3 linked regions of the Homo sapiens genome follow. The main gene of each other region encodes a partner of the protein of the gene in region 3 in a complex. Each region holds a gene or a part of one and is shown on either strand. Other genes may lie near its edges. A codon is read from its position in the direction of its gene.

Region 1 (3,749 bases), on a different chromosome or scaffold from region 3:
ATTTTTAAAAGTCTGAGGCCAGGTATGTGGCTCATGCCTGTAATCCCAGCACTTTGGGAGGTTGAGACAGGAGGATCACTTGAACCCAGGAGTTAAAGACCAGCCTGGGCAACAGAGCGAGACTCCGTCTCTCAAAAAAAAAAAAAAAAAAAAAACTTAGCTGGGTGTAGTGGCACATGCCTGTAGTCCCAGCTACTCAGGAGGCTGGGGAGGAGAATTGTTTGAGCCCAGGAGTTCAAGGTTGTAGTAAGCTGTGATCGCATCACTGCACTCCAGCCTGGGTGACATAGCCAGACCCTGTCTCAAAATAAAAACACAAAAAGACAAACAAAAAAGGTCTGAGACCTTCAGTGTTCCAGAATAGTGTGTATAATTGGTACAGGAGGTGGGGAAGGGGGACCCGATACAGTGTAGGGGCAAGCTGAGTCCCATGCCTCTTCACAACTTTTCCTCCAGTGTGGTAGTTTGATTTCTCAAGATCCATGAGTAAATATGTGCACAAAAGACACATCCCTCAAAAAATACAAAATACATTGTCTAAGGAAGAATCTTTTAAATCCATATTCAGAAAATGATGTAATTCTTTAAGGATGCAAATGAGCAGTTCTGCTAGAGAGTTACCCAATTTTCATCACTGAATGGAAACAAATAATATGCCATTAATGAAAGCCTACATTTGTTTTGTGCTTTGCACTTTGCAAAGAAAAAATTCTAGGCTCCAAGAACACATTAGTAAATGACAATGCAGGATTCAAACCCAGTATAGTAAAATACTCAATACTTATATAGTATGCTAGGTAAAAACAATTTAATTTTACACAGTGGTGAAGTCACTAATTTTCTCCAAGGAAAATTATATAAGAGAAAGCCCTTTGGAGGCTTTTTCACAAGATGATATCATCATCATCATCATTGGTATATGGATCTTTTTGAGATAAACATGTTTATTCATTCATTAATTTAACAAGTGTTTACTGTGCATCATTATCAAGGCATGACACTAGGTTTTACAGAAGATGCAAATATGACTTCCTATAACAACTTAGGATCTAGCAAGGTAGAGGAAATAAAAGATGAAAGGAATTTGATAAATATCACAGGAAAGGTGGGAAAAAAAGTGTTAAAAAGTTCACATTAAAACTGCAAAGTTCATATTCCCTTTGGGAAGTGGGGAGCTTTAGTGGAAATGGTAACAATTGGAAAACCAAAAATTAAAAATAGACAAGGGGGGTAAGATAAAATGATAGATTAGTATCAAGATACCAGGACTCCTGAAGCAGGACATATTGCTACCTTAAGATTATTAACAAACTAGTTCCCATGGATTTAGATCCTTTCTGTAATCATAGCTAGAAACTGGTGTTCTTATAGGTAGTATCGCAGAAGGCTGTACTGTACTCAATACTTCCTGTATATGGATAGGAAAGGTTTGGATGGTCATCTGTCACAAGAGTAACAATGTTTAGGAGTAGCTTGGACACTGGTCATTGATTCACTTTTATTGGTGCTTGTAATGTCAGTATGTTGACATCATTGTGCAGCCCTTATCAGATTGTGAACACCAAGAGTACCCCAACTGCTGGCCCGCGAGCTGTTTACAAATATCATACCGGCTTTTATCGATGATAGTGGCCTTTAAAATCTGGAGTTCAGAGTGGCACAAAATGTGTTTCTAATGCAAACGACTCTCCTTCCCACGTGCACCTCTTTGATCAAGTTTGTGGCTGAAATCAGACTCTAGTTAGATCGCTGTAAAAATAAAAATAAATTTTCCCCAAATGATTGAAACGAATTTCACCCTAGACTACGAGTCCCATCATGCAACGCTCCCATATTCCCACCGTGTGGGGCGGAGTCGTAGAAGGGGCGGCAGCGGCGGCGGCCTGTGCATTCTGGGTATTGTAGTCTGGGGCCCGGCCACCGCTGGGGCTGGTTCCACGTGGTGCATTTGGCGGCAGCTTTGGGCAGTGGCTCCCCTGCTCCCTCCACACGGTCCTCAGGGTGCCAGCGCCAGCAGGGGCGGCCAGCCACCGCGGGAGCGGGCTAGAGTGTGGCCCGGAGGCAGCCCGAGGCTTCGCGACGTTTTTGCGACAGCCGCGGCCGTGTTCCGCGAGTGCCCTCCCTCCTCCTCTCTTTGAGGAGGTACCGGCTGTTGTGCGGCTCTGCCCTTCTGTTTGAGTGTATGGGAGAGTGAGTGAGTGAGTGAGTGTGAGCGTGTGTGTGAGAGCGTGAGGCGTGAGTGCGCGTGTGAGAGGACGAGAGCCCGCCTGGCCGCCCCGCCGCTCCCGCCGCAGCAGGAGCAGAACGCGCGGCCGGAGAGAGCGGCGGAGCCGGCGCCCAGGGAGCCCGCGGGGACAAGGGCAGAGACACCGCTCCCCACCCCCAGCCCTCGTCCCTCGGCTCTCCTTCGCCGGGGGATCCTCCCCGTTCCTCCACCCCCGGCCGGCCTCTGCCCCGCCGTCCCCCTGGATGTCCCTGGCGCTTTCGCGGGGCCTCCTCCTGCTCTTGCCGCATCAGTCGGGCTGGTGCTGCGGCCGGCGGGCGTAGAGCGGGCGGGTTCCCGGGGGCTGCGGCTGCCCGTGCTTCCCCGGTCCCCACCCCTGCCCCCCGGCCCCCCGACCCAGCTCTCCGGCCTCAGAGGCTGTGACAATGGACTATGACTTTAAAGTGAAGCTGAGCAGCGAGCGGGAGCGGGTCGAGGACCTGTTTGAATACGAGGGCTGCAAAGTTGGCCGAGGCACTTATGGTCACGTCTACAAAGCCAAGAGGAAAGATGGGTGAGTGTGTGTGTCTGGGCCGGTGTCCGCGCTGGGCGGCGCTCCCGCAGGCCGAGGCAGGTAGCCCGGAGGGAGAGCGGGCCGCCGGGGTGCCGGGCTCTGACTTCCTCGACGCCGGCCTCTGGCTCCGCCAGCCAGGTTTGGGGAGGAAGTGGTGTACGAGGGATCCAAACCCACGAGAAATCCTGCGTGCCGCGTCTGTGTTCTGCTCTGGTGGTAAGAGGCAAGATGAGCCTCTGCACCGTGGGCTGTATACTTTTCAAGGATTTCAAAGCTGATTCATGAAAAAATTCGTTCTAAAACGCCGGGTTAAATGTTTTTTGTTTTTTTTTTTCCTTGGTCGATTTATTATGGTAACCTTCTGGGGATTTCCTCACCCGCCTCTGGAGTGTCATCCATCGGTCTAGAAGGAAGGCTGTGATCCTTTCCCCCACCAGTTTGTGATCGATTTTTTATCAAATTTGTATTTTATTTGAGGAAAGGAAGGCAGCGAGTGAATGTGGTTCTGGAGAGAGTTCCCCATAGTGATCATCTGCAACATAAATGTTGCAATTGCTATTTAGATATTATTAGCTGTGAATTTTTACATAGAACAATGGGGGTTTGGTGCAGGGTGGGTGGTGGGGAAGAAGGCAAGTGACATAGGGACTATCTCGTTCAGGCGGTTTCCCCCAAATTTAGCGGCTGGCAGTGAACTTTAAATAATCCCTTTGCTTTAAATATTCTTCCCTAGTAACAACTTAATTAAACCTATGACTGGTAATGCTTCCAATTTAGTTTCTTAACAGGCAAGTGAATTGTTCATTTTTTCTCTTTGTCAGTAGATGAATGTCTTGTAATATTGACAAAAGAGAAGGCAATTCTTAGTTGGGGGGAAAATATATTTTATTAACTCCATGTTTTCTTGTAAAATGGATGTTGTCTCTGTTGCCTTTGACAGAATAGAAAATTATTGAAAAGTCAAAGCTTATT
Region 2 (3,749 bases), on a different chromosome or scaffold from region 3:
TAAGACTCAAAGTCACCTTAAAAAAGAGTGTAACAGAGAGTCCTTGAGGGGAAAGAAGCAATTTCCATAAAAATTATTCTCAAAAGTAGATTACTCAAGTTAGAATAGCAGTGTTTATCTAGAGATCCACTGGTACACAACTGTAAATTCTTGCCAAAAATGAGAAAAATATATAAGAATCAACATTATATTCTTTTAAAGTTGCAGTGACAAACTGTTAATGGTAAAAGAGTTGTACCTGAGGACATCTGAAGTCTGATTTGAGTCAAGTGGGTGGGAGTGTTTACTGTGAAGCAGCTCGTCAGATTGCACTGAAGGCACGTGGAGGTGCAAAGAGGCCTAAGAAGGTAACAGGTAATCAATCAGTCAGCCAAACAGAAAATAATCTGCTATTTAGTTTTACCTTATTCTCCCAATATATCTTATAAAATGATGAAATACATTTTAGTCCTATGTTATGAATGAAAGCCACTATAAAAATGCTTGTTCTCTTTTAACTAATTCATTATAGAAATGTTTTTTTTTTTTTTTTTAAGTAGGGGCAGGTTCTTGTTCTGTTGACCAGGCTGGTCTTGAACTCCTGGCCTCAAACAATCCTCCTGCCTTGGCCTCCCAAAGTGCTGGGATTACACGCATGAGCCACTGTGCCTAGCCAGAAGTGATTTTTAAGTGCAAAACTTACTTTGAATCTATTTCCTTTTCTTTAGCTTTATTGTTTTTGAGACCATACAATAATCCTTAGAAAAAGAATTTCTAATTACCTGCTAAGTCTAATTTGCCTAGATGTGCAAAGTAAATGTTTAAGGAGGCACTAAATTGAGTAGTTAAACCTGAGTAGTCTGTCCTTAAGATATATGACACCCTTTATGACTACGCAGACATACCTACGTCTAGCACTGAAAAAAGTAACAGGAATAAGCATAAGCAAATAGTTTGGTTACAGCACAATAAACCTTAAACAAGCTATCTTCGGTTGAACTGAGAACACTCTAAGTAATACAGTGCACAGATGCCTGCTTTGCCCACTCAATTTCATAATAGAGGGTAGGTAAAAACTGGCACACTCATTTAGATATGGCAATGAATAGTGGGAGAAAGGAATAAACTACTCCACACTCCAATTAAATGAGTCATTTTTTTTATAAGTCAATATAGTATTAAAAAGCTATGATAAAACAATGGTGATGTTCACTGCAGTAACTCTTGGTAGATCTCATTCTGTACACTGTATAAGGTACTATTTTATATTTAGGTGTTCTCTCCTCTGCAACTGCAATACATATAGAAACTCATGTAGTACATTTAGGAATATAACCAAAAATAGCTATGTTTCAACTGTCTACAAACTCTTGATTTATGGAGTTATAAGCAAGTCTCACACTGCAAATCACTACAAATTTTTAAAATGTAATTAGTACCAGTACTCTATTCCTATGATAAAAAGGGATCTAGCTAACAACCCATTATATTTCCAAGCAAAGAGAAACAAACCAGGTGGCTTTACTGCCTACAGTATAAAACTAAAATAAGATATATGAAAAAAAAAAGTGAACAAAAAGTATGGTAAATTATGCCTTAGGTGATAGTTCATAACCAGAAGTCCTAATCTTGTTACAATGTATCTAAGGGTGAATGCCCGCTTTATACTATCCTTTCTGCAAATAAATACTGAGTAGGAAAAGCTCTAGATAGTCCCTTGGACTTTTTGTAAAGTTGTGTTTCCTGAACACATCCCCTGAAACACTAAGATAATAAACTATTAACAGGTGTTAAATAATCCTTTCCTTGTGTATTAATAAGTTTGGGAAATGCTAGGTAAACTATCTTATTTACCTCTGTTTTTCAGACTTTAGTGTGCATACATGTATTATGACTAGAAAAGAGGACAGATAGCATGTGTAGCACCCTCCCAAAGGACCAAAGAATCCTTTGTTTTGTGGAGACACCAAAGACTACTAGTATATAGAAAATCCCTGACCTCAGGTGATCTGCCTGCCTCAGCCTCCCAAAGTGCTGGGTTTACAGGTGTGAGCCACTGCACCCGGCAGCAAGTATTTAAATTAGCATGACTTGTGGATTAAAAACAGTCAACTTCCGGTGGTTTTACATAAGAATAAGTGAGTCACGGCCGGGCGCGGTGGCTCACGCCTGTAATCCCAGCACTTTGGGAGGCCGAGGCGGGCGGATCACGAGGTCAGGAGATCGAGACCATCCCGGCTAAAACGGTGAAACCCCATCTCTACTAAAAAAATACAAAAAATTAGCCGGGCGTAGTGGCGGGCGCCTGTAGTCCCAGCTACTTGGGAGGCTGAGGCAGGAGAATGGCGTGAACCCGGGAGGCGGAGCTTGCAGTGAGCCGAGATCCCGCCACTGCACTCCAGCCTGGGCGACAGAGCGAGACTCCGTCTCAAAAAAAAAAAAAGAATAAGTGAGTCACATCTAAATTTGTTATTCTGGAACAATATTAGCAGCAGTAATATAATTCTGTATAGGGCTTTTATATCTCATTTTGTGACTTATCTCCACTTCATGTTACATTGCTTACTAACAAATTCGGTTTTGTTTTTTTGAGAGAGGGTCTCCTGTCACCTAGCTGGAGTGCAGTGGCATGATCATGGCTCACTGCAGCCTCAACCTCTTGTGCTCATGCGATCCTCCCTCCTGCCCCAGCTTTTCATGTTATTAGGACTATAGGCACATGCCACCATGCCTAATATTAAAAACTTTTTAGAGAGACAAAATTTCACTATGTTGTCCAGGCTGATCACAAACTCCTGGCCTCAAGTGATCCTCCTGCCTCGACCACCCAAAGTGCTGGGATTATAGGGGTGAATCGCTGTGCCCAGCCTGAGTTTGTTGTAATAAATCACGATGAATCTGAGAGTCTCATTACTGTATTTAAAAACCACTCAGTTTTTTTTTAACACAGCAATCTACACACAGCTAGAAAAACTTTTTTAAGTAGTAAATGAAACTAAAAATCAAGTATTACAAAGATTATAAATCTTTTTTTTGTTTGTTTGTTTTGAGATGGAATCTCACTCTGTCACCCAGGCTGGAGTGCAGTGGCGCGATCTCGGCTCACTGCAACCTTTACCTGCCGGGTTCAAGTGATTCTCCTGCCTCAGTCTCCCAAATAGCTAATTTGCACGTGCCACCACGCCTGGCTAATTTTTTTGTAGTTTTAGTAGAAACGGGGTCTCACCATGTTGGCCAGACTGGTCTCAAACTGCTGACTTTGTGATCCACCTGCCTCAGCCTCCCAAAGTGCTGGGATTACAGGCATGAGCCACTGCGCCCAGCCCAAGATTATAAATCTTTTATTCCCCAAAATAATGCAGCATAACAGCAGTGCAGTATGATGTAATTCAAAGAATAACATAATAATCATTAAAAGACCCAGGTTTCAGTCTTGAGTCTATTACCAATTTATGACTTTAAACAGGTGAGTTTTTCTGAACTTAAATATGCTCACCTAGAAAATGAGAAGGTTAGACAGAGGTAATATAAAGTTTCTCTCAGCTCTAAATTTCCATATATGCAGTTGAAACAGATTGAGCATCTCCAATTTGAAAAAATCCAAAAATGGAAACAATTCTGGTCCCAAGCATTTCGAATAAGGGATACTCAATCTACACTAACAACAAGGGCCCTAGGAGTTTGACTTAGGAATAAAGTTCTAAAAATATAAATTTAAAAACTAGTTGTTTTTTTTTTTTTTGAGACAGAGTCTCAGATATTGTCACCCA
Region 3 (3,749 bases):
GCCACCACACTCCGCTAATTTTTGTATTTTTAGTAGAGACAGGGTTTCACCATGTTGGCTAGGCTGGTCTCAAACTCCTGACCTCAAGTGATCCGCCCATTTCGGCATCCCAAAGTGCTGGGATTACAGGCGTGAGCCACCACACCTGATGCAGACTAATTCTCACATACAAACAAATGCATTTCACATCTTGACTGTGTGTGTATATGTGTGTTTGTGTATGTATATACACACATATATAACTGAACCAAATTTAAATATAATATCCTTGCTATTTCTGATTTACCTAGTATTTTCTGTTCTATTTAGGAAAATGATTATACTTAATTTTACCACACCCTAATTGGTCTCCACCTACAATGTGAAAAATACTGTCTTAAGTTGCCTCAGATGCTGACTGTCTATAAACAAGTTTCTGGAGTGTCCAATTATTTAGAAAAATAATTATAAGTTTTACAATAAATGCATTGCTACAATGAAAATGAAATGGAAAATACAAAATATTTCGTCTTGTAAAATTAAATTATGGCTTTTTTTGCAGTATGTTTCTATTAGGTGCATACATGTACATACATGTGCATACATATATGCATGAATATTTTTAGATGTTCTGCAAAACTGTTGATTCCGCTGCTCTGTAAGTTTGCACTTTATCACTCCAAAATAACTCCATTAAGATCGCGGCCGAGATCTCGCCACTGCACTCCAGCCTGGGCGACAGAGCGAGACTCCGTCTCAAAAAAAAAAAAAAAAAAGATCGCGGCCGGGCGCGGTTGCTCACGCCTGTAATCCCAGCACTTTGGGAGGCCGAGGTGGGCGGATCACGAGGTCAGGAAATGGAGACCATCCTGGCCAACATGGTGAAACCCTGTCTCTACTAAAAATACAAAAATTAGCTGGGCGTGGTGGTGTGAGCCTGTAGTCCCAGCTACTTGGGAGGCTGAGGCAGGAGAATCGCTTGAACCTGGGAGGCAGAGGTTGCAATGAGCCTAGATAGCGCCACTGCACTCCAACCTGGGCGACAGAGCAAGACTCCGTCTCAAAAAAAAAAAAAAAAAAAAACCGCCTGATCCAGGCCGGGCCTGGTAGCCCACGCCTGTTAATCCCAGCATTTTGGGAGGCTGAGGCTGACGGATCACCTGAGGTTAGGAGTTCCAGACCAGCCTAGCGAAATCCCCTCTCCACTAAAAATACAAAGATTAGATGGACGTGGTGGCACGCGCCTGTAATCCCTGTAATCCCAGCTACCTGGGAGGCTGAGGCAGCAGAATCATTTGAACTGGAAAGGCAGAGGTTGCTGTGAGCCGAGATTGTGCCACTGCATTCCATCCTGGGTGACAGACCCAGACTCCGTCTCAAAAGTAAAAAACAGGCAGGGTGCGGTGGCTTACGCCTGTAATCCCAGCACTTTGGGAGGTTGAGGAGGGCGGATCACGAGGTCAGGAGTTTGAGACTATCCTGGCCAACATGGTGAAACCCTATCTCTACTAAAAATACAAAAATTAGCTGGGCATGGTGGTGCGCGCCTGCAGTCCCAGCTACTCGGGAGGCTGAGGCAGGAGAATCGCTTGAACTCCTGGAGGCGGAGCTTGCAGTGAGCCGGGATCGTGCCACTGCACTCCAGCCTGGAGACAGAGCAAGACTCCGTCTCAAAATAAATAAATAAATAAAGTAAAAAAAAAAAAGGAACACTTGATCCCTGAGAACAAAGTCATCTTCATTTATTTCTCTTTCCAATCACAGGAAAAATAAGTCACAAAACCTTGTACTTTATTACAATGCCACATTGTTCTGTTTTTGAAGTCCTGGAAGAGGTAATAACAGAACCCCGTATCTGAGCCACTTCGCCTAGGTTAGACCCACTCAGCAACTCCCGTGCTGAAGACAGGAGACCGAGCGGCTTGGGCCCCCGGCCAGAATTCTCAAGACGCTCTCGCGAGAGCCTTCCAACCGCCGCGAGCTCTCGTGAACACTAGTTCTCTTCAATCTCAGCACCTCCAAGGGTCAGCACCTCCCCTCCGGCTCCCTCCGCTACCGCGGGCCGGAACTTTTGTCGATAGGAACGGGTTTGCACAGTTGAGTGTTGTCGGCCGGCGTGAAGGAGACTAGGGGGCCATCCTCTTCCTTTCGCCGTCGCCGCCGCGGAGCGGAGTCGAGCCGAGCTGATTTGATCGAGGAGCGCGGTTACCGGACGGGCTGGGTCTATGGTCGCTCCGCGGGCCGCTCCGCCGGCTGGTGCTTTTTTATCAGGGCAAGCTGTGTTCCATGGCAGGGAACTTTTGGCAGAGCTCCCACTAGTAAGCGATCTTCCGTCTTCTCACCTGGGGCCGGTTTTTGGGGGAGCTGTGAGGACGGGGCCTGTGACTCCCCTGGGCCTGGATCCCAGCTCAGTTCCGAGTGCCGGGGTCCTCACGGGAGACCGCAGCGGTCAGAATCAAGATGCGCTTTTCTGAGGCGACTCCCCTCCCCGCCCCCAGCCCCAGTTTCGGGGAGGGAAGGATCTGTGAGGGGGAGGGGTGGGAGAGAGTTTCGTCTCCCGGGAAGGAACGTTTCGGAGTTTAATTTCGGATTCTTGGTTTAGCTAGGCCGCGGGGGGTCGGATAGAGTGGGCACAGGTACGGGAAGTGTGACTCAGCTCAAGACTGTGAGGCTACCTGTTCAGGACAGTTGTGGCGTGCTTTTACCTGGGGTTTCTTCGGGTGATCGGCGTCGTGGTCTTTTGTCATTCACTGTATATCTTGAGTGGATTTAATATTATGAGGAGAGGAGAGAGTCTGGCTTGTTTCTGCCTACTAACCGCTTCTTGCGCGTACTTTATGTCTAGATGGAGTTTTATATTGATAAGGTATAGGGCAGGTGCCCTCTAAATTTATCCATTTCATTAGCCTGTGCTTTATATTTTGTTTTAAAGGCCTATTTTTCCAGTGACTTTGTTTACCTGTTTCTTTAACCTTTTTCATGAATAAGTTCTTGTTTCTGTCAGTGACCATGTGAGAGCTAGAATAATATTAAAAACATTTATCCCTAAATACATTTGTTTAAGCAGGCAGGAAGGTGCGTTATGGGGTAAATTGAACATTTGAGTAGGCTTTCCACTGTATAGTTGAAAGATGAACAGAATTTGACAAGGTATCTTGGTATAATTTTTTATGCTAAGAAAGCATTAGTAAGTAATTTAAATTTCGATTCTGTGAATAGGATCTGTTCCTGATGTTCATTTTTTAGCCCTTTGCAAAGAGAAAAAAAGAAACAATGAACTCAGTAACCTATTTAAGGAAAAGCAGGTTTTCCTCTTGCTATAAAGTGATTCTGTGGAGATGACATGTTAAAGAAGCTTTACCACTGATCATATGTGTGTGTGTGTATATATATGTGTGTGTGTGTATGTATATATATATGTGTGTGTATATATGTTGCATTGTTTTCACACACTGAAATATTGCTTGGGCAAAATTAAAGTATCGAAAGTTTAGGTATTGGAGTTAGAGCTCCTGAAAAAAAAAGTTTAGGTAGTGGAGAAGAGATATTCTGATAAACTCTGAAAGAAGCTGAGAGAATTGACAAGTAGCTGACTGTTGATTTTTCAGTTTTTCAACTTAAAAAAAAAAGATCCTGCCTTATTTTCAATAGTGTTCTCATTATGCTTTCATTTATTCATAGCATTCTAAAAATATGTTTTCACTTTTCAAATATAAAATTATTATAAAGTTAAGTGTACTTCTTTGAAACTATTCTTTTCTCCCAATTCA

Evidence for each region.
Region 1: the proteins of CCNC (region 3) and CDK8 are in contact, whole or in part, in a crystal structure (PDB 5CEI), measured with the Homo sapiens proteins. Residues at the interface, in NP_005181.2 of Homo sapiens: Met1 (codon at 2,266), Ala2 (codon at 2,269), Gly3 (codon at 2,272), Asn4 (codon at 2,275), Ser8 (codon at 2,287), Ser9 (codon at 2,290), His10 (codon at 2,293), Gln13, Phe72, Tyr76, Lys79, Ser80, Ile81, Asp82, Leu85, Leu93, Lys96, Val97, Glu98, Glu99, Phe100, Gly101, Val102, Tyr130, His134, Leu136, Glu137, Glu139, Phe140, Tyr141; in NP_001251.1 of Homo sapiens: Met1 (codon at 2,650), Asp2 (codon at 2,653), Tyr3 (codon at 2,656), Asp4 (codon at 2,659), Phe5 (codon at 2,662), Lys6 (codon at 2,665), Leu9 (codon at 2,674), Arg13 (codon at 2,686), Gly58, Ile59, Ser60, Met61, Cys64, Arg65, Ile67, Ala68, Leu69, Arg71, Glu72, Leu73, Val84, Leu86, Ser87, His88, Arg91, Lys92, Val93, Asn145, Trp146, Val147.
Region 2: the proteins of CCNC (region 3) and MED13 are in contact, whole or in part, in a cryo-EM structure (PDB 8TQC), measured with the Homo sapiens proteins. Residues at the interface, in NP_005181.2 of Homo sapiens: Gln7 (codon at 2,284), Gln13, Trp14, Leu16, Gln19, Lys23, Gln26, Lys27, Arg75, Tyr76, Glu144, Leu145, Asp147, Cys148, Ser221; in NP_005112.2 of Homo sapiens: Tyr1342, Ser1630, His1631, Val1732, Lys1733, Thr1734, Thr1736, Phe1738, Gly1739, Pro1740, Gly1741, Ala1743, Arg1897, Met1898, Ile1901, Asp1905.

What each region holds. Positions count from the first base shown.
Region 1 is NC_000013.11:26,251,993-26,255,741, forward strand, and holds the start of CDK8 (cyclin-dependent kinase 8), read left to right. Parts: upstream 1-2,136; 5' UTR 2,137-2,649; coding exon 2,650-2,777; intron 2,778-3,749.
Region 2 is NC_000017.11:61,946,679-61,950,427, forward strand, and holds part of MED13 (mediator of RNA polymerase II transcription subunit 13), read right to left. Parts: intron 340-3,749; coding exon 239-339; intron 1-238. UniProt on the Homo sapiens protein: Component of the Mediator complex, a coactivator involved in the regulated transcription of nearly all RNA polymerase II-dependent genes.
Region 3 is NC_000006.12:99,567,044-99,570,792, reverse strand, and holds the start of CCNC (cyclin-C), read left to right. Parts: upstream 1-2,132; 5' UTR 2,133-2,265; coding exon 2,266-2,297; exon of another isoform or gene 2,298-3,227; intron 3,228-3,749. UniProt on the Homo sapiens protein: Component of the Mediator complex, a coactivator involved in regulated gene transcription of nearly all RNA polymerase II-dependent genes.